Homo sapiens: one gene and its partner. The protein of the gene in region 1 interacts with the protein of each later gene in a pairwise test. Each region holds a gene or a part of one and is shown on either strand. Other genes may lie near its edges. The genes, in order: TAMM41 and GPI.

Region 1 (11,392 bases):
GAGCAAGACTCTGTCTCAAAAACAAACAAAAAAACAAACAAAAAAAAACTGCTGTTTAACTTTCTCTGGGTTATATTTACATACGTGTGCTATTAATATATGTTCCAAAATTGTGTAAGATTCCTTAAATTCTGATATGTCTTAGTATTTGTCATCAGGAATAATTCTGATTATTATGCTTAATTGCAGTATGCCACAAAAACAATCAAATTTCCTTGACAATTGTGTCTTTAACCATGAATATTGCCTTTCCTAACCACAGACAATTACTGTTTTACTTTGGTTATTCTCAAAAAGTGGTTTATGATCAGCTACAGCCCAAAATCTGCTTCTTTTAAAAAAAATCATAGAAAAGGCTCTGCCACAGACTTTTAAATACAGGTTTCTGATAACTTTAGCTATCATACCATTAGACTAGGAAAGAACTTCTAGGACTCTAACTAAAAGGCTGATGTGTTTATGAAGATAGCTAACTCAACATCAAGCAGAACAAGGTTAATTACATTGAACTAAACTAATAAAAGACTAAACTGATTTTTTCACAGCCTCTTTTTTAAAAAACATTGCCAGTCCTTTTAATGTTTTGTTTTCAGAGTCAAAAAACTTTTTTGTTTCAGCTATTCGTAGCTTATAACAAATGGGTAAAGTATACTTTTGTCAGCAAAATTTAAAACAGATATCTTTCTCTTTACCTGGTTTATTTGGAATTTAGAAACTATTTGTGAGTATTCTTAATTTATGACAATATAGTTATTTACATAAGTTCAGTAAGAATCTGTTTTCTTTTGTAACATGACACAATTAGAGAAACTGGTTATGTTACCAAGGCTTTGACTGGAATGACCTATTTTCAGATATGACCAGACTATGTTGAGGAATTGACATCGACTTTACAGTGCTAATAAAAAGCCCCTTGAAGAGATTGGCCTAGGCTAGGCATGGCAGCTCACCCCCATAATCCCAGCACTTTGAAAGGCCGAAGCCGTAGGATCACTTGAGGCCAGGTGTTCAAGACCAGCCTGGGCAACGTGGCAAGACCTTGTCTCTACCAAAAAAAAATAAATAAAAGCCAGGAGTGGTGGCATACATGTTTAGTCCTACCTACTTGAGAGATTGAGGCAGAGGAATGCTTGAGCCTAGGAGTTCAAGGCTGCAGTGAGCTATGATTACCACTGCACTCAGCCTGTGTTACAGAGGGAGGCCCTGTCTCAAAACAAACAAACAAACAAAAGATTGCCTGGTACCTTGTCTACATAGTTTCTTTACAAGATTCCTGACCTGTGGTAAGTAAAGAATATCACTTCCTAACAGGCCCAGGAAGCTCAAGATATTTTGGGACCCCAAAAAGAGAGGAATTTACCCAGGTGAAAGGTGTCATTGGTAAGTGGCAACTATCTGAGCTGGTGGCGTGGGGGTAAGAAGGCTTTACCAAGACAGTTGTAGGTAAAGAAAGGCAGATTTAGTAGAGAAAGTATGAAAGTACATTGCAAAGGAGCAACAGGCAGAATCAGCAAGAGAGAAGCTGACTGCAAGGAAACAAAGGCTTGCTGGAGATTTTATAGGATGGTTCTTTGCTGTGTACTGAAAAGAGCTTTGTGCAGTATTGATAACGCCAAGGTTACAGCGAGCTGTACAGGTGTCTAGTGATAAGTTGGGCACAGGAGGGCTACGTGTCCTGGACCACAAAGAAAGGCAGACTCATAGCTTATCTGCTTTCTTTCTTTCTTTGCTTTCCCGTGCTCTCACCAGCCTAACTCCTTTTCTCTAATTAGGACTTCACAAAAGGGTTACCCTGGAGGTTTGGAAAGTGTCATTCTAAACGCTTTGTAGGAAGTAAGTCTAGGAAGATTGTACCTAGAGTTTTGTCAGTTCTGGGTCTGAACAAAGACATCCTCAGAGTCCAAAGCGTAGAAATTCTTGGCTTTTTACACCCACAAGTTATAACCGTAATTCATGTGTTGAGAAATTCCCCAATCTCTCTCTTAGGCTATAGGATCCCCTGGTGCCTTCAGGCAAAAGAGGTCCGTGAAAATTAGTCTTGATTGGTTTGGGACACTGAGATGATTCTGGGACAGCAAGGGAGTGCTTGGCACCAGCGCTTCCTAAATTTATGCCACAGAATATGAATCCCAGAAGACACTGAGAGAGAAGGTGGAGGGAGCAGAGGATGGAGGAAAACCTAGTCTGGGAGATTGGAAAATGCTACATGTTCTGCTTCTCTCTTGGAGATTCACAATGCTTATTAATATATTAATGCTCGGAGGAATCCCACATCAAAGATCTCGATTTGCCTCTGTTTAATCCAGAATTTCCCAAACTTAGCTGATAGAATTTTTTATCAAATAACCCTCCTTGGGACAAGCTGCTTTACACCAAACCCAGATCGCAGGGGTTCATGCCAGAGACAGACTTGGTATATGGTAACTAATTCTTTCTCTTCTAACTCAGTTCTTTGCCAATTCAGTTTCTCCCAAAATTCAGGGCCAGTTCTACAGAGAGATAAAGTGGGCAGCTGCTGACCAGCTTGAATTTCAGGGATAGTGGAGAATCAGAAGGGTAAACACATACGTAGTACTCACTACATGTCAGAGATTGATCTAACCAGCTTAGTTGTCATGACAACTCTGGGAGGTAGACGCTCTTATTATCCCCATTTTATACTTGTGGAAACTGAGACACAGAGCCAACTTGCACCAGGTCACACAGATCATCAGTGGCTGAGAATTGAAACCAAGCAGTCTCAATCCAGATTCCACATTCTGCCTCTCAGATGAGATACCTGCTCTGTTCTTTGGAATTCCACCATTATTTATTCATTTCTTTGGTACTGTAAAAGTCCATGGTCTTCCTGAACTCCACTGGAAAACTCAGTGTCCCCCTAGAAGGAGGATTCTAAGACCCAGTATGGAGGCAATTCTTTCTTCTTAGAATTTTTTCACGGTGTACTCTCTGGTGAACTGCTGGTCATCTTCCAAGGTCTAATCCAAATGTCATCCCTCTAAGAAGCTTTCCCAGAAACCCTGAAGAAAAAGTAACCCCTGCTGTCTTACCATTGCGGTGGTATAGATCTGGTTTATACTCTCCATAGTGTATTTTTTTTTGCATGCATGTGAATTTTTTGCCACCAGACTATAACATTTGCAAATGCAGAAATTTTGTTTCAGGCACTGTACTAGGCACTAAAGGACAGAAAGATTAATAAGATATGGTTCCTGACCTCAAAGGGCCCCTAAGCCTTTTATAATTGTACTTGATGGACATATCTGATATTTAAGACAAGAGCTAGAGAGCTAAAAGCAAAGGGTTAGGAAGGCACAGAGAACAGAACACTTTGATAGCTGAGCTGGGACTAAAGGATGAGGAAGGTTTCAATGGGAGAATGAATCAATGAATGAATGGGTCCCTTGGTGAAATGAACACCCCGTGTTATTTTTCTCGTGCAAGAGGAAAGGGATTGGACTTGGAGGCTGTATTAGCAGCTGCCATTAGCCCTGTGACTTCAGGCACATCAATTCTTTTTTCTAAGCTTCAGTTTATCCATCTGTAAAACTGAAATAGTAGCTACTAATTTCCCAGGATTTGTTTTAAGAGCTAAATAAAATCATGTCTGCAAAGTGCTTTGTGTAAAATGCTAAACGCCATAAAGATGTAGGTATAATTATGCTTCTTAATTCCTTTTGTACATTGTCTCTTAAGAATTCAGGAGGATGTCCTCCGTTTATTGAAAGCTTACTCCAGGCACTATTCTATGTACTTTCTAGATACTGTTTCATTTGCTGTCACAACAACCCTGTGAGTGAGGTGTCATTACTCTCCCCAGGCTGCAGATGAGGAAAGGAAAGCACAGAGAGGCTAAGTCTTCTTGTCCAAGGTCACACAGCTATTAAATCCTGGGGCCTGGATTCCAACCCAGGTGGTACCTTCAAGCCCCTGATCAGACACTAAAGATGTATTAAGATGCTCTCAGTTGGCTGGGCATAGTGGCTCACGCCTGTAATTCCAGCACTTTGGGAGGCCTAGGTGGGTGGATTGTTCGAGCTCAAGGGTTCAAGACCAGCCTGGACAACATGGTGAAACCCCATTCTCTACAAAAATACAAAAATTAGCCTGGTGTGGTAGTACATGCCTGTAATCCCAGCTACTCAGGAGGCTGAGGTGGGAGGATCACTCGAGCCTGGGAGGCAGAGGTTACAGTGAGCCGAGATCGTGCCACTGCACTCCAGCCTGGGTGACAGAGTGAAACCCTGTCTCAAAAAAAAAAAAAAAAAAAAAAGAAAAGAAAAGAAAAAAAGAAAAGAAAAGAAAGAAAAGAAAAGAAAAAACGAAAAAATGCTCCCAGTCTGTCCCAGTTCTAACCATCAATCAGCCGAGAATGGACAAATGGGACAGGGTGACCCACCTCTGACAAGATGGAGATCAAGACCCCTCTCCTTCCCCTCCATCAGCAGACCAATTGAACATGTGGCTAATTGTAAGAACCACTGAGCCTGGATTTTTATTCTTCCCCAAACATTTTTCTCTCCTGTACTTAAACACTGATTAGAAAAAAAAAAAAAAAGCATTAAAGCCATAGATGTTTTTTTACAGGGCTTTAAAAAAAATGGATTACATGGATTCGATGAACCTTCTCCTAGTGAAAGCCTGACAAGGTCATTATTAAGGAATACAAAGACAACTGCTAGATAAATCAGAAGAATGAGGCCCAATATTCACTCGAGTCACCAGGCATTTATCTATATTTGTAAGTGGCTCTCTAACATGTTTATTTCATTGGTATAAGCTTTCCAACAGAACCCTAAAGCGATTATATAGAACACTGGGTCTTCCTAATAGCCTCTAATTTCACAAGCCATGGTAATTTAAAAGAGAGTGGGTGGATGAAGGGCCAGGAGCAGGGAGATTTCTGCTGAAGAATACAAATGTGTTCGTGGCTACGTTGCTTCTGCCTCTTTCTGGGGAAAGGCAAAATGCACACAGGAATGTGATGGAACCTTCCAGCTGGTGGTTTTGCATTGCAGGAAGAAAAGTGTTTGTGAACATGAAAATTGCTGATAATTGGGTGTGAACGCCTGTAAGGGAGACAAATGGAGAAACATTGCAGCATCTTTATTTCTATCAAGGGCTGAACTCTGCTGGTGGGTGTGTGAATTGGCACCATCTTTTGGAGGGGAATTTAGCAGCGTGCTGACACTCTGACCCAGCAATTCCCCTTCTAGGAATCTGTCTTATAGCAATACTTGTTCATGCACATAAAATGTACAAGGATGCTCATGATAGCATTGTTTGCAGGTGTGAAAACTAGAAATAACCTACATCCATCAACAATAAAATGTTTAAACAGGCCAGGATGCCTGTAACCCCAGCACTTTGGGAGGCCGAGGCGGGTGGATCACTTGAGGTCAGGAGTTCGAGACCAGCCTGGCCAACATAGTGAAACCCCTGTCTCTACGAAAAATACAAAACTTAGCCAGATGTGGTGGCGGGCACCTGTAATCCCAGCTACTCAGGAGGCTGAGGCAGGAGAATCACTTCAACCCGGATGGTGGAGGTTGCAGGGAGCCTAGATTGTGCCACTGCACTCCAGCCTGGGTGACAGAGCAAGACTCGCTCTCAAAAAAAAAAAAAAAAAAAGAAAGAAACAAAAGAAAAGAAGAAAGAAAGAAAGAGAAAGAAAATGTTTAAACACTTTCTTTTAAACAAAAAATTTTAAACAAAATTATGGCATATCCATATCTTAGAATAATTTGCTACTAATACATGGAATGAGGGAAATCTATATATTCTGACACAGAACATTGTCCCTGATACGCTAAGTGCAAAAAAAGCAAATTGCAAAATAGTATCTATCCTAGGAATCCACTTAAAATTGTTTTTAATGTTAATATATTCATAGAAAAATATTGGAAGGAATATGTGCCAAAGATTACCGTGGCTATTTCTGGGGCATGATGTATGTATTTCATAATGTTTACATTTTTATGAACATGGATTACTTTTGCAAACAGGAAAAATCCAATGACGTTGAATTATTTCCCCAAGGGAAGGAAGGAAATAAAAAAGGAACCGGCTGGTAATGAGATTTATTCACTGTCTTTGGGTGAGAGGCTTCAGTGTAATTCCACGGTGAGTGCACTCTGATTCCGGCACCCTGGGCAAGGGCGATATGTAGTAAAAATGAACGGAAGTGACCATGCCCACACCAGGGGCCGCAGACAAACGGCCTCTCTCCGCTCCCTTGCCCTGGTCTCCTGCTTGTTGCTGCGGCTACTGCTGCTGCTCCTGACTCTTGGCTGATGCCTGAGTGCCTGCTTTCTTCCCATTTCCTTCTCTCACCCTGCAAGCCGCTGTAGAGGACACTTAAACATGGTGGTAAAGACCTTGGCCTTTAGAGGTAGGTAGCCCTAGGTTCAAACCCCGACTTCACCACTTTCCTGTGTGACTTTGGAACATTTACTGCTCCTCTTAGGACCTCTGTTTCCTCGTATGAAAAATATCATCATCTTAGAGAACCTGCCTCATAGGATCTCTGGAGTGATGAAAAGAAACAAGTATAAAAAGCCTGGGTGCAGTGGCTCACGCCTGTAATTCCAGCACTTTGGGAGGCTGAGGTGGGCAAATCACTAGAGGTCAGGATTTCGAGACCAGCCTGGCCAACACAGTGAAACCCCATCTCTACTAAAAATACAACAATTAGCCAGGCATGCTTGCTTGAACCCAGGAGGCAGAGGTCACAGTGAGCTGAGATCGTGCCACTGCACTCCAGCCTGGGCAACAGAGCAAGACTCGGTCTCAAAAAAAAAACAAAAACAGAAAAGCCCCAAAGAAGTCTAAAAAGTGCCTGGGCATACTAAGTGCTTAATAATGACACCTATTATTAGTATTATTGTCACCGAGTCCTTTCAATTCTTTCTTGGTTGAATTTTCCCATCTATCTTCTACCTGATAAACTCCTACCCAGCTTCCAGGCCTGGCTCAAAATGCCATCATTGTGAAACCTCTTCTGGTCCCTTTCCCCAACACCCAGAACTGACTGACGTTCCCATTGGAGGGACATTACATTCCGGCACTGTGCTGGGTACCTGGCTGCATTACCCAAATTCTACTCTGATTTGCAGTTCTGTCTCCTCTCCTCTACAGACCCCTAGCTCCTGCAGGGCAGCAGGCAGCTCAGATCTCTTCATCTCAGTGCAGGCCCAGAGTGTGAGTGCAAGTAATCATTTTTCCAATTGATTTAATCCCATCCCTGCTCCTAAGACCTTGGCCTAGCCGTTTCCAGTTCATGGGGGAACTATGATAACAACTGTCTAATCAGTCCCCCACAATTCAGGCTAACATGTGAATTACATAAGTCCTTGCTCAAAACCCTTCAAGGACAGAGCAGAATTTCCGAAAAAATCCCAGAGTTGGAGCCAGACCTGGGTTTAGCTCTAGTTTTGCCACAGGCTGATGTGATCCTATCACCTGGCTTTACCTCTCTAAGCCTTAGCTTGGCCATCAGTAAAACCAAGGCCCTCCTGCCACAGGGCACTAGAGGGTGCTCAGTGAGAAGTGCATGTGAAAATGTGTCAACATTACCTGAATGTTAGCTATTACTATTTCTATTATTTTTGAGAGGTAGTGTATTTTGGGGAGGAAGGAGAGGGTAGTTGAAAAAGTTTCTGTCCTGGAAGTCAAACCACCTCCTGAATGGTAATCTTCAGCAAGTTTCTCCAGTTATACAAAGAGGAGAGCTGTAAGATTTTTCTACTCCTAGGGTCCTGTTTCCTCCAGAAACTGCATTTGAAGCACCCTTTGTGAGACCATTCCACAAGGCAAGGGGGCAAAAACTGTGATCCACCCTTGAAATTAAATGCAAGTATCAGAGAACGTCTGTGCACTCCCATATCCACCCTTGTATTTGAAAAGGGCTTTAGCGTGAAGAAGTCTCCGTCAAATCTTGACGGTGGTATTCTCTACATGGCGGGATTGGGCATCATTTTAATTTTGTGTTTTTCCAAATCTTCGAAATCTGCAATTTTGGAACTAGAGCGATGATGGGGGCACAATATTGTGAAGGCACTACATGCTACTACACTGTCCATTTCAGAACGGCTAGTTCCATATTATGTGAGTGTCGCCTCACTTAAAAACCTTCAATACGCTCCCGATTTTATAGTCATTCTTTAAACCGTAGTTTGAAGAGAGAAGTACAGAGGCTATCAAGGCTCAGGGCCCGCGGAGTCGGGTGACGCTCGCCTCCGCCGATTTGTCCAAGTCGCAACCTAGCCGCCAGCCTGTAGGGCACTCCTCCGACCACGAGGGGACAATGCAAAGCCTCGCGTTCCCCACACTAAGGCGAGCACCGCCTCTTGCGTCTTGGAAGCGCCTGTGCGTGCGTGGGGCGTAGCAAGGGACGGAAGCTCTGCCTGTGCGACCGCCGCCCACCCGAGCCTATCTGGGCTGCGTCTTCTCGCCGCTGCTCTTCGTGGCCCAACGCCCCAATCCTTGCGTGTGCTTGCAGTCCCACCCCACACTCAGCCTTGTGTCCCTCGATCCAGTCTCCGACTTCCATTTCCCACCCTAAACCGCCTACCCGGTGTCTGTTCCCCGCCCGGTTGTCCTCGCCCTGCTGCGCTGAGTGTCCCCTGTTAGCCTCGACCCCATGGCGCTGCAGACGCTGCAGAGCTCGTGGGTGACCTTCCGCAAGATCCTGTCTCACTTCCCCGAGGAGCTGAGTCTGGCTTTCGTCTACGGCTCCGGGGTGTACCGCCAGGCAGGGCCGAGTTCAGACCAGAAGGTGAGCCCGGGCAGCCCCACGACGGGGAACTGTCTGTTCTCACGAGTCCCGTTTTGCCCTCGATTCCTTCAGAGTCGGAGAGCTGCCTGTCCGCTCTGCACACTCCACGTGTCCACTAGCAGAGTGAACCATAGGCCTGCCTTCCTAGTATAACGACAGCGCGAGTTGAAGCGACGGTGTTGAAGGATACTTAGGAATCCACGTGGGTCTAGAGCAGGAGAAGCAGTTAGGCAGAAGGAAAAACTGCTGCAGGGGCAAATGGAAGAAAGGAAAAGAAATCGTTATCAGGTTCTTTCAGTGTTTTAGTCGGCTGGACATCGGAATTTTCTGGGGAGCTTTTAAGAAAATCCTAATGCTCGGCTTCCGCCGATGGAGATTCTGATTTAATTGGTTTGGGATGAGGCCTGGGCTTCAGGAATTTAAGAAACGTCCCAGGTGATTCTAATGCGCAGCCAAGTTTGTTGAGAGTCACCTCTATAAATGTAGGAGAAAATGCAAAATGATCTTCTGACTTCAGGAAGTTGGCGGACTGGTTGTAGGGCCAGGGCAGGTGCAGTGAAAGTAACTAACATCAAAAGTTAGTGCGTGACCAGTGTATTTACCCTCGCTCAGCACTTTTAACAACGGTCTGTTTGAGACTAGGCATTGTTACTTTTCAGAGTTGGCTCAGCACAGCCTCAGTAAGGGTACAGTTTTCCTTGTAATTTGCAGAATTCAGTGTGCAGGTTTTAATGGGGCCCCCTGCGTCTGGATACCTGACTGTAGTCTGTCTTCTGATTAACATCCTGCCTGTTCACTTCCTGGTGAGGCCATCTATGCTGTTGCTTGGATTTCCTCTGTTTCCCACTTACACTACTATTTAATATTTTTCTTTAAATTGGCAGCATATGAGAAATTATAGGTTATTATAGGCTAGTTATTTTTCCCGAATTTACCTTAACATAATTACACATTTTTAAAAAACATGTTTATTCCATACCTGCCTCGCCACCAAATCTCAAGTGTCCCCAGTGGTCTGTAGAGTCACACTCTACAGAGCAGGCGTTAGCCTCCTGATGGCCACCTCTTCATTCTTCCATGGAGGTTTTCCTTTGAATAGACCTGGAATTCCCTGCAAGAAAAGGTCCTTCCTTCCCATTCCCTCACTTTTGATTCCTTACATTCAAGTGAACAAGTTGTAGATTCCAACACCTACATCTTTCTCACATCAGTCCCCATCCTTAGCGCCTTAGCTAATATAATTTCATTTCTCCCCTGGAATCTTGCCATGGCTTCAGATCTAATTCCCCCACCCCCTTAGTCCCTCTTCTCTCCAGTCAGCTCTTCTGCAGGAAAATTTTCTAGCATGGCAAACAGCCTCCCTCTCTGATCTCATCTCCCACCGCATAAATGTGTTCTATTTCAGTCATATCTGACGGCAGCTTCCAGAACATGCTGGCTCCCATATCCACAGAGCACTTTCCTCCAACACGGCTCCCTACCCTTCCCTGTGCTTCCCCCAGTGCTTCCAGCAAGTCTGTTTAACTCACGTGTCCTTCAAGACTCAGATTTGTCATCTCTAGGAGAATTTCTCCCTCCTGTGCCCCTGATCTGATCCCTATGCTGAGTGCAGTTAGTACATTTTGCATTCCTCTATCAAGTCAATGTAGTGATAATTTGTTTATTCTCTCCAGTAGACTCTGAGCTCTATACTTCTACCCTAGGGCCTGTCAGAGTTCATTACTTATGTACTCAATAAGTGGTTGGTGAATAGGTAAGAGATAAAATAACTGACTTCCTTTTATATAGTATTTTGTAGAGTTTATCCAGGTGGTGCTAATTTGATCCAGAAGAAAAGCGGAGCACATTTAGCTACATTTGTGAAAGGCAGTGTAGTGCAGTGGTTCAGCACACACAGTTTGGAGCCAGACCTCTTAGGTCTGCCACTCACAAGCTCTGTGTCCTTGGGCAAAGAGCATCCCCTGTGCCTTGGTTTCTTATAAAATTGAGATAATAGCAGTAGCTACCTTGTAGGGTTGTGCTGAGGATAAATGGAGTGACTGCGTATGTTACCCATAAAGTGTTTAAAGAGTGCTGGCACAACAATACATGTTAAAGAAGTGTTTGCTATTATTACATTGATGAAAACAAAGCTCATATTTGTTCCAGAGACTCGCTCACATTTCTGATGACAGCACCAGGCCTTCTGACTATTGATCATAATTGCGTAGTATGTTAGAGCTTTTCCATGCTCTCTTGCTGCCTTTCTAGGAATTAATACTGAAATTATTCTCTTTTCTTCACTCCACAGAATGCTATGCTGGACTTTGTGTTCACAGTAGATGACCCTGTCGCATGGCATTCAAAGAACCTGAAGAAAAATTGGAGTCACTACTCTTTCCTAAAAGTTTTAGGGCCCAAGATTATCACGTCCATCCAGAATAACTATGGCGCTGGAGTTTACTACAATTCATTGATCATGTGTAATGGTAGGGTAAGTGACTGCTGGCCTTTGTCTTAACTTGGCTGGTTATTTACCTGGGTTATTAGAGTGCCAGCTAAATATGTATGTTCTTGTGGTCAGGAAACATTCACACTCCTGCTGGACGTTGTTATAGTCGGGAAATATGTATGTTT
Region 2 (11,275 bases), on another chromosome or scaffold:
AGACGTGCGGACCCGGGTGTCTGCAAGGTTCAGTCTCCACACCCCAGCGCCCGACCCTGCGCGGGGACATGCGCACAAGCGCGCGTCCTGACCACCCGGACGTGCTGGCCCACACGCACACGCGTGCGCATTACCCCCGCCCCATCCGCGCCTGCGCTCAACCCCGCCTACACCTGCTCCGTGGCCTCCCCGGAGGCGATGAGCCAACCCCGGTAGCTCCAGAGGCGTGGTCCCCTCGCCTTCGCCGGTCAACATGACTCAGCATCCTCGGTGGGCTCGCCTCCTCCCCCGGAACAGCTGTCTAAAATCCATGGGCGTGGAAACGCCACGCCACGCCCCGCTCCCGACTTCTTCAGCTCAGGCCCCAGAACTGACCACCCCACCAGTCCTCTGCCCCAGTCCCTCTGCCTTCACTCCCATGGCCACCTGTGCTCCAGGGCCTGCCTGACCCCTGTCCAGCGGCCCTGAAGTAAGGTCTGTGATGTCTAAATGCCGATACCTCAGTTTCCCCATCTTTAGAACGGGGCTCTTGTTTGGAACTGTGCCCGCCACAGCCTGCAGTAAGTGCTAGCTTCATCAATACTCAGTGGCAGTCAATTGCTTTTCCAGGGCTGCCTTATGCTTGAAATTAAATCTTTGCTATCCAGAGTTAGGACTGTCCCCGGACTTCCTAACTTGCCTCTGCTGTCAGGTGTACCCTCTGGTCCGCTCCTCTCTCAGGGCCACATCATCTTGCTGGGGGCACGTGAAGGTGTCCGGCTCTGCAGCATGTTCTCTTGGAATTTCTGGGCTAGGTTTCCTTTCGATTCTCCTTGGTCAGTCCCTGGCCTGGGGGCATGACCCCTCCCAGCTTCACTACCCCCCAGGATCCTGGGGATTCTGAGCCCTAAGCTCTGCGATCGGCAGGACTTGGCTCAGCATATGGTAGTGATTGTACTGATGGTGATAGACAACAGAATATAAAATGACCTTATGGCCAGGCACAGTGACGCATACCTGTAATCCCAACAGTTTGGGAGGCTGAGGCAGGAAGATCTCTTGAAGCCAGGAATTTGAGACCAGCCTGGGCAACACAGTGCAACTCAGTCTCTACAAATAATAATAATAAGAAAATTAGCCGGGACGGGGTGGTCATGCCTGTAGTTCTAGCTACTCAGGAGACCGAGGTGAGAGAATCGCTTGAGCCCAGAGTTCAAGGCTGCAGTGAGCTATGGTCATGCCACCGCACTCCAGCCTGGGTGACAGAGCGAGACACTGTTTCAACTAATAAGACATAACTGGGATGATGAGGAGTGGAGAAAGGGATTGCCTGCTCCTCCACTTTCCCTCCACCTTTTTCCTAGGACTGAAGAGGAACTGGCAGGAGCACAGGTCTCAGGAAGGAACCAGGCAGCCTGGGTTGATTCTCTAGTTAAGAGCAGAGTGGCTTGTTTCATATTTCTTTCTTTCTATTTTTTTGGAGACAGGGTGTCACTCTGTGACCCAGGCCGGAGTGCAGTGGCATGATCTTGGCTCGCTGCAACCTCTGCCACCCGGGTTCAAGTGATTCTCCTGCCTCAGCCTCCCCAGTAACTGGGATTACAGGTGTCCGCCACCACGCCTGGCTAATTTTTGTAATTTTAGTAGAGACAGGGTTTCACCATGGTGGCCAGACTGGTCTCAAACTCCTGGCTTCAAGTGATCCACCTGCCTCGGCCTCCCAAAGTGTTGGGATTACAGGTGTGAGTCACTGCACCCGGCCTTGTTTCACATTTCTTTCTTTCCTTTTTTTTTGAGACAGAGTCTCGCTCTGTCGCCCAGGCTGGAGTGCAGTGGCATGATTCAGCTCACTGTAAGCTCTGCCTCCTGGGTTCACTCCATTCTCTTGCCTCAGCCTCTCAAGTAGCTGGGATTACAGGTGCCCGCCACCACGTCCAGCTAATTTTTTTGTATTTTTAGTAGAGACGGGGGTTTCACCATGTTGCTCAGGCTGGTCTCGAACTCCTGAACTCGTGATCCACCCACCTCAGCCTCCAAAAGTACTGGGATTACAGGCGTGAGCCACCGTGCCCGGCCTCATTTCACATTTCTTAACCTCTCTGTTAAATGGGGAGGACAACAGGGTATCCTTCATAGGACTGCCATGAGGGATACATGGAAAGGATTTAGCATGGAGCTGTGCACGTAGTAAACCTGGCTGGAGTAGTGGCCGTGTTGGTAGTTTTGTAGTATGATGATGAATGGCTTTGGATTAGTACTTTCTAATCCAAAATGGCTTTGGATTAGACTTTTCTTCTTACTTTTCTGTGCTTTCTCCCTGTAGCCACTGTGATTTATGGCCCACCAGATAGGAACCTAGTTTCCTGCTAACATAGAAAATCCAGGCTGGGCGCGGTGTTGCATGCCTGTAATCCCAGCACTTTGGGAAGCCGAGGTGGGTGGATTACCTTAGGTCAGGAGTTCGAGACTACCCTGGCCAACATGGTGAAACCCCATCTCTACTAAAAATACAAAAATTAGGCCGGGTGCAGTGGCTCACGCCTGTAATCCCAGCACTTTGGGAGGCTGAGGCAGACGGATCACGAGGTCAGGAGATCGAGACCATCCTGGTCAACACAGTGAAACCCCAACTCTACTAAAAATACAAAAATTAGCTGGACGTAGTGTTGCATGCCTGTAATCTCAGCTACTCGGGAGGCTGAAGCAGGAGAATTGCTTGAACCAGGGAGTCGGAGGTTGCAGTGAGCCGAGATGGTGCCACTGCACTCTGGCCTGGTGATAGAGGGAGACTCCATCTCAAAAAAAAAAAAAAAAAAAAAAAATTAGCCTGGTGAGGTGGCGGGTGCCTGTAACCCCAGCTACTAGGGAGGCTGAGGCAAGAGAATTGCTTGAACCTGGGAGGTGGAGGTTGCAGGGAAGCAGAGGTTGCAGTGAGCCAACATCGTGCCATTGCACTCTAGCCTGGGCAACAAGAGTGAAACTTCATCTCAAAAAAAAAGAAGAAAAAAAGAAAATCCATGTAACTGGAGTTTCAAAGTAAATGTGAAATCTGGAATAGTTGAAGCTTCTGGGAATCACAGAGGCCAAGTTGCAGAGGTGTACATTATGGAAGATTAAAAGGCAGGGGAAACCTTTGAAATGGCAATCATCAGAGGCCTCACCTCCTGCCTCTTTCGCAATACCCAAAGCTGTTTCTAGGGTTCCTGGTGGTCGGGAGAGGACACTGGACAAGACTGTGGCAGTGGAAAGGTGAACACCCGTAACATCTTTGGAAAGACTTGGAGTTGTGAATGACAACTGAACTCCAAACAGACACTAAAGGGAATCGTTGGTTTACATTCTAGCTGCAGGTAGAGGTGGCCTGGCCCCAGGAACCTGGGCACTGTGAGATTCACTCTGACATCTCTGTGGGGATCATTCTCTTCGTTATTTTCCTCAAGACCAGGGGCTAGAGCTCAGGTCTGTCCTTTCTGACAGGCAGCTTAACACCATAAAAAGCAGAGACTTTCTGCTGCTGGCTGCAGGGCCCTGGAAAAGGACCCTGTTTAGCTGGCATAAGTTATGTGCTCATCTCTGATGGATTCAGGCAGGGGTAGAAACACGGGTGGGAGAGGATGGTTTTAGACAAAGAACAACAGCCGTCCATCTGGTCACCAAAATAACCTACTAGAAAAAGGCAGTCTCAGTTTGCAGGTGCAGTGCTGCATGCCTGTAATCCCAGCACTTTGGGAAGCCAAGGCAGGCAGATCACTTGCACCCAAGGATTCGAGACTAGCCTGAGCAACATGATGAAACCTCGTCTGTACAAAAAATAACAAAGCTTGTCTCTACAAGGAAAAAATTAGCTGGGCATGGTGGTGCACACCTGTAGTCCTGGCTACTCAGAAGGGTGAGTTGAAAAGATCGCTTGAGCCTGGGAGGCAGAGGCTGTAGTGAGACAAGATCGTGTCACTGCACTCCAACCTGGGTGTGACAGAGTGAGACCCTGTCTCAAAAAAAAAAAAAGAAGGAGGAGTCAGAGGGAGTCAGTGGTTACTATTGGGCTAGAGTCATCTGAGGAATCACAGGGTAAGTGATAATGGGGCAGTGGCTACTGAGACTCGCCTTCCCATTGGTTGAGGTTTTGTTCTGAAACAGAGGATTTGGGGTGGGAATTCTCTTCTGTGTAGATGAGTAACTGGCTTAGAAAACCCTGATTGGAGTGTTTCTCAGAACCCCCGTAGAGGCCAGGCGCAGTGGCTCATGCCTGTAATCCCAGCACTTTGGGAGGCTGAGGCAGGCGGATAATGAGGTCAAGAGATTGAGACCATCCTGGCCAACATGGTGAAACTCCATCTCTACTAAAAATACAAAAATTAGTTGGGTGTGGTGGCGTGCGCCTGTAGTCCCAGCTACTCAGGAGGCTGAGGCAGGAGAATCGCTTGAACCAGGGAGGTGGAGGTTGCAGTGAGCTGAGATCACGCCACTGCACTCCAGCCTGGTGACAGAGCGAGACTCCATCTCAAACAAACAAACAAACAAAAAAAGAACTCCAGTAGAACAGATACTGTTCAGCACTACCAGGGTTGTGCTAGGTGTGGAAGCTCAGTGAAATCTTAAGAGTTGACAGTTCTTAGAAAAGGGCCATGTGGACAGGGCTGTTCCCTGGAAAGTCCTGTGACCCCTCAGTGACCACTTATTTCTTTTGTTGTCAGCCTTTCCCTATTTTCTTTTCTTTTCTTTTCTTTTTTTTAAGACAAGGTGTTGCTGTGTCACCCAAGCTGGAGTACAGTGGTGGTAATCACGGCAGCCTCTAACTCCTGGACTCAAGTGATCCTCCTGCCTTGGCCTCCCGAGTAGCTGGGACTCTGCAGATATGCACCACCACATGCCCCGCTAATTTATTTTTAGTATTTTAGAAGCAGTGTTTTGCTGTCTTGCCCAGGCTCGGCTTGAACTCCTGGCGTCAAGCTATCCCACCTCCCAAAGTGCTGGGATTATAGGCAGGAGTGCCCAGCCCCAGAGTTCTTACAATGACTTACAAGGTCTTACGTGATCTTGTTGCCTCCCTTTTGCTCTCTGACCTCATCTTTTTTTTTTTTTTTGAGATGGAGTCTCACTCTGCCACCCAGGCTGGAGTACAGTGGCTCACTGCAGTCTTCACCTCCCAGGTTCAAGTGATTATCCTGCCTCAGCCTCCCGAGTTAGCTGGGAATACAGGCACGTGTCACCAGGCCCGGCTAATTTTTGCATTTTTTTTTTCAGTAGAGATGAGGTTTCACCAGGTTGGCCAGTCTGGTCTGGAACTCCTGGCCTCACATGATCCGCCTGCCTCGGCCTCCCAAAGTGATGAGATTACAGGCGTGAGCCACCGCGCCCGGCCTAGTCACTTTTTTCTTAATTGCAACCCCGATTCTCAGCACCCTTTTCATCTTGGTTTTCCTCAATAGCCCTTACCACCAGCAGACACACATCATCTGTTGTACTTGCTTATTTGGCACATATGTATCCACAGCGCCTAGAACACTGCCTGTAACGTGGAAGGTGTTCGATCTATAGAGTTTTGTCGAATGAATGAATGAAGCCGACTAGTGCACAGGGAGTGCAGCGGCGCGATGGTAGCTCTCTGCAGCCTCCAACACCTGGGCTCCAGTGATCCCCGGGCTCTGCCCACCCTCCCCACTGCCACTTCCGGGCAGAGGCCAGCAAAGCGGCGGCGCAAGAGGTAGGGAGAGAGGAGCTGAGGCCCCAGATCAGCGGCCGCGGGCAAGGTCGCTCAGCGGGCACCCGGCCTGGGTATCGGGGCGCGGGTCGGGGGCGGGGCCGGGGCTCAGGGGTGGGGCCGGGCCGGGCCGGGCCGGGCGCCTGCGCCATAAAGGCCGCCGCGCGCCCACGCGCCTCGCTTGCTGCGCGCTGCCGGCGCTCCTTCCTCCTCGGCTCGCGTCTCACTCAGTGTACCTTCTAGTCCCGCCATGGCCGCTCTCACCCGGGACCCCCAGTTCCAGAAGCTGCAGCAATGGTACCGCGAGCACCGCTCCGAGCTGAACCTGCGCCGCCTCTTCGATGCCAACAAGGACCGCTTCAACCACTTCAGGTGCGGGCGGGCCGGAGGCGGGGGCTGCCACGCGCGGCGCCCGGAACCGGGCACGCGGGCCTGGGGTCTGGAGGCGGGGGCAGCGGTGCCCGGGGACCCCAGTCCCCGACCTCCAGGCCACGGACTGGGGCCCAGGCCGAGTCCGCACTTCGTCCTTGGAGTCTCCTTGGAGTGCGTTCCTGGGGGCTTGCAGCCTCGCCGGGAGTCTCGGCCCCGGGTCTGCTTCGTTACGAGGAAAAACGGGCCCCTCCGTGGGGACATTTCCCCTCCTCCTCCCCGTGCAGCTCTGGCCATTTGAGCAGGGGCTCCTTTCGCAGTTGTGAAGAGAGGCCTTGGCTGACGCAGCAAGCGGGAAAGGGCTGTCCCTTTCCATCCGCTCCTGGCCACATGAGCTTGGGAGCGTCTGCAGGGCGGGCAGCCCGGGCGGGGGTGTTTGAGGGAGCTGGGTGGAAGGATGGAGACGTCGGGCGTGATTCCTGCAGAAGACACCTGTGCACGACCGGGAAGTGGGAAGGAGTGTTTGAGCAAATCATGGGCGGGAGTGCGGCCAAGGGAGCTCTGATCACTGATACTGGTGGAGGCGGGGGAGGGGAGCGACTGTGGCTCCGGGCTAGACGTCCCGATGGCCATCCCTGTCATCTGGATGGGTGCCTGAGTAACTTACGGCAGAAAGTGGAAGCCCTGGGAAGGGGTGGTCCCCCACTTCAGTCCGGGCTCCTCATCCAGGGTCTGCCTGCATCTACGGTCTGTGAGGATGGCTTCTTTCTCTGGGCTGCTGTTGCAGATCATCCTGGTGGGCCAGCAGGTGACAGACACCACCACTGTGCTGGGTGGCCGCGGCCCTTGTGGGGCGTGGGTCAGGGAGGATGTTTCTTCTGGGAACAGCTCCTGCTTAGGGCATGGCTCCCCGCTAGGGAGACCAGGGTGTGGTCAGCAGCATCTCCATCTTTCTGCAGCTTGACCCTCAACACCAACCATGGGCATATCCTGGTGGATTACTCCAAGAACCTGGTGACGGAGGACGTGATGCGGATGCTGGTGGACTTGGTAATGTTCTGCTTGGGGAGGCATAACTGGTAACCGACAGAGTGGTGGGTGAGCTGGGCTCCTGGGAGTCCCCAGGACCTTGAGTATCTTGAGTTCTTCCTCTCATTAGACCTCAGTCACCTCCTCTGTGCTGGTGAGGCACCTGTCCCTGGCTTAGGTTCTAAGCAGCATCCCAGGGACCCCAGTGTCTGATGTCTGAGTAGACCCTTCCCAGACAGCAGGGGAGGGAACCAGACAGCAGCCGTCTGTCTGTCTCATTGGGGACAGCACCAAGCCTTGTGTTTGGGGGCTGACACTTGGGGTGGCCAGTGTGGGTGGGACCAGGCCTCAGTATCGTCTCTTCCTAGGCCAAGTCCAGGGGCGTGGAGGCCGCCCGGGAGCGGATGTTCAATGGTGAGAAGATCAACTACACCGAGGTGAGCAGGCCCCACATACCCTCTGGGGCCTCCTTCCTTCCCTTTGGGGTTTATCTGACTGTTAGCCGCATCACCCTGTGTCTTCACCCCTTCTCTTGGGCAATGCTTTTGCTTAATGAGGGGCCTGAAGGCCTTTTTCCTCCTGCTTGTAGCAGGGCTTTGGGGTGTGCCTTCCACAAGATTGGTTTGGTGAGCTCCTTGGAATGGTTCCCAGTGTCTGCCTGGGAGGAGCATATCTCATACCCACAGGGAGAGTTTCTCAAGGCTGACATTTTCTTGGAGAAGTTAACTCTAATATATCCTCAATGCAAGTTTTAGTAGCGACAAGAAGAATCTTAGATCACCAAAGACTTCAGCCTACTCAAGCAGTAGGAGTCAATAGGAAGCAGTGGTGAGGCCAGGCCTGGGGGCCCCTGTTCCTGACTCAGTATGGGAGCCCAGCCTGGAGGTATAATGGACACTGAGCACCCAGACTCTGTCCTCATGATGTCATTATCCTCCTCTTACATGTGAGGAGTCTGAGGTTCAGAGGTCACATCACTTATCTAAGATGTCATAGCTGTAAGAGGCAGAATGGAGATTCACACTCAACCTGTCTTGCATTGTGGGTCTAAGCTGAGAGAGGATGCAATCAAGGAAGGCTTTCTGGAGGAGTGCATTTGCCAATAAAATGTGGCGCAGGAGTGGGGTCTGGCAGGGTGAGGGTGGGGTGGCATGAAGCCCTCCACCTTAGCAAGCCTCTCACTGGGTCGGAATCCCAAGATGATCCTTTTCCTGCCCACCTGGGGTCGTTAGACCTTCCCTCAAGGACTCCTCTGCTGACTTCAGGCCATTTCACTCACGTGGCTGGGCCAGCCGCCTGGCACCCGTCACAGACTTCAAGTCTGGTTTGGTTCCTGGCAGTTGGTAGTTATCGGGCTGCTTGGTGAGGGAAGCTTGAGTTGCATGCCTTGCTGCAAATCCAAGGAGCTGAGGACACTGCCTAAAACGTGCCAGCAAACACCATGGACACACATTGGGAGGATGAGGTTACTTCAGGCTTCATGAGCACTCATCTTCGGAAAGCGTTTATTTATTTATTTATTTTGAGATGGAGTCTTGCTCTGTCGCCCAGGCTGGAGTGCAGTGGTGCGATCTTGGCTCACTGCAACCTCTGTCTAATGGGTTCAGGCGATTCTCTGCCTCAGATTCCTGAGTAGCTGGAACTACAGGTGTGTGCCACCCCCACCTGGCTGATTTTTGTATTTTTAGTAGAGACAGGATGTCACCATGTTGGCCAGGCTGGTCTCGAATTCATGACCTCAAGTTATCCACCTGCCATGGCCTCCCAGAGTTCCGGGATTACAGGCGTGAGCCATGGCGCCCGGCCTCTGAAAGCATTTATTGCTTGTTTCTGACATGTATTGTTGCCATTCTCTGCCTTTGCTCACTGTTCCTCTTTTCTCTCACTGTTCATGCCCTGAGCATCTCTGGCAGGCCTTCGGGGCCTGTCCTAGGCATATATGGGTCCCCTCCTCTCCTCCTGACTGTCTGCAGCACATAAGTCCTTGGGGAGCTCCTACTCCTCTAAGCATACAGTGGGTTCTTGGAACAAGGTTATGGTGCTAACAGAGACCTCAGGGCCTGCCTGTCTAGTGGATAGAGGGCCGAGCTATGGCACCATGCCCAGCTGGGAGCATGGCTGCCTGGGGTTGGGGGGGGCAGTCTTTATATCCTGACCGTAATCCCCAGGGTCGAGCCGTGCTGCACGTGGCTCTGCGGAACCGGTCAAACACACCCATCCTGGTAGACGGCAAGGATGTGATGCCAGAGGTCAACAAGGTTCTGGACAAGATGAAGTCTTTCTGCCAGGTAAGTGGCTACTGGGCCGGACTCACCCTTGGCCGTGTGTGTGAGTTATTTGGGAATCTGGGAGCCCTAAGGGGCAGCTCTTCCCTCTTCTTGTAGGCAGGACTCAGGTTCTCACTGCAGCTTAAGGGAGGGGTTGCCTGTGTGATCGCTGACCCTGGAGTCTCTGCTGAGGCCTGAATTTCTCCTGGCTCTGCTCTGAAGGAATCTGCTGCTGGCAGAAGTGGGGCCAGTTTCTTTCCTGAATTGTAGACACCTATGGACTCATGGTGACAAACCACAGAGGCTTCAAATGAAAAGTGGGGCCCCTGAGAGACAGGACAGTCAGGAAAGGAAGGAGCTTTTTCTTTTTTCTTTTTTTTTTTTTGAGATGGAGTCTCACTCTCTCGCCCAGAGTGGACTGCAGTCGTGCTATCTCAGCTCACTGCAACTTCCGCCTCCTGGATTCAAGCTATTCTCCTACCTCAGCCTCCCGAGTAGCTGGAATTACAATTATGCGCCACCCTGCTCAGCTAATTTTTGTATTTTTAGTAGAGACGGGATTTCACCATGTTGGCCAGGCTGGTCTCAAACCCCTGACCTCAGGTGATCTGCCTGCCTCACCTGGGATTACAGGCATGAGCCACTGCGCCTGGCCGGAAGGAGCTTTTTCTAATCTCTTTTGTCATACGCCCTTATCACCCAGTCTAGAAACAGATAAAACATTGTAAAATTTCCTCAACCCTGGCTGGGCGCGATGGCTCATGCCTGTGATTCCTGAACTTTGAGAGGCCGGGGTGGGTGGATCACTTGAGGTAAGGAGTTCGAGACCAGCCTGGCCATCATGGTGAAACCCCATCTCCACTAAAAATACAAAAATTAGCCAGTTTTGGTGACATACGCCTGCAATCCCAGCTACTTGGGAGACTGAGGCAGGAGAATCGCTTGAACCCGTGCGGCAGAGGTTGCAGTGAGCTGCGATTGCGCCACTGCACTCCAGCCTGGGCGACAGAGGGAGACTCTGTCAAAAAAAAAAAAAAATTTCCTCATCCCCATTCCCAGCTAACCCTCCAGAAGCAGCCTTTGTAAAGTTTCCTGTAGCCAGGCGCAGCAGCTCATACCTCTATTCCCAACTATTCAGGAGGCTGAGGTGGGAGGATGGCTTGAGCCTGGGAAGTTGAGGCTGCAGTGAGCCATGGTGACACCACTGCACTGCAGCCTGGGCGACAGCAAGATCGTGTCTCTAAATAAATTTAAAAAATAGAAAAGTTTTCCTGTGAAGTCTTCCAGAAAGTTCCTGTGCACATACACATCTGTCATCTCCTCTTTGAAACACGTACACATGTGCACATGCACACAGGTTGGTTTTCTCCCTGCTCCTCTGAAGCTTATTTCCACCTGGAAGTATGTAAGCAGTGTCCGTGTGTCAGTGACAGTGCATGTAACATGCCTTCTTTTCCTTGTGTGTAGGGTGGTAGGGGTTGCCTCAGAGACCAGCTAAGTTTCCCCACATCAAGCACTTGCCTCAGTGTCTACCCTAGCGGTGATTCTGCAGGGGTGGGTTGGCAGACATCCTCACGTCTGGAGAACGAGGGTGATGCCGGTGTGCCTGTGTGGGCTGTGCATGCTACGAGGGTGATCGTCCAAACTCTTGTCAGCTGTGATCATTTGCTGCTTGTCCTAGGAGCAGTGGCCTCCATGTGTGGCTGGTCAGAGTCCAGTTACTTTGGCCAAGAGCCACTTTCAGACCTGAAAATGGGCTGGGTGCAGTGGCTCACGCCTGTAATCCCAGCACTCTGGGAGGCTGAGGCAGGTGGATCATGTGAGGTCGGGAGTTTGAGATCAGCCTGATCAACATGGTGAAACGCCGTCTGTACTAAAAATACAAAAAAATTACCTGGGCGGGCATGGTGGCGAGCACCTGTAATATCAG

What was found.
Region 2: the proteins of TAMM41 (region 1) and GPI interact in binary tests that used the Homo sapiens proteins (3 or more experiments, as listed by UniProt).

Annotation. Positions count from the first base shown.
Region 1 is NC_000003.12:11,843,886-11,855,277, reverse strand, and holds the start of TAMM41 (phosphatidate cytidylyltransferase, mitochondrial isoform a precursor), read left to right. Parts: upstream 1-8,392; 5' UTR 8,393-8,641; coding exon 8,642-8,776; intron 8,777-10,181; exon of another isoform or gene 10,182-10,375; coding exon of another isoform or gene 10,376-10,387; intron 10,388-11,066; coding exon 11,067-11,249; intron 11,250-11,392. UniProt on the Homo sapiens protein: Catalyzes the conversion of phosphatidic acid (PA) to CDP-diacylglycerol (CDP-DAG), an essential intermediate in the synthesis of phosphatidylglycerol, cardiolipin and phosphatidylinositol.
Region 2 is NC_000019.10:34,359,337-34,370,611, forward strand, and holds the start of GPI (glucose-6-phosphate isomerase), read left to right. Parts: upstream 1-5,859; 5' UTR 5,860-5,923; coding exon of another isoform or gene 5,924-5,930; coding exon 5,931-6,052; intron 6,053-7,008; coding exon 7,009-7,099; intron 7,100-7,446; coding exon 7,447-7,515; intron 7,516-9,246; coding exon 9,247-9,366; intron 9,367-11,275. UniProt on the Homo sapiens protein: In the cytoplasm, catalyzes the conversion of glucose-6-phosphate to fructose-6-phosphate, the second step in glycolysis, and the reverse reaction during gluconeogenesis.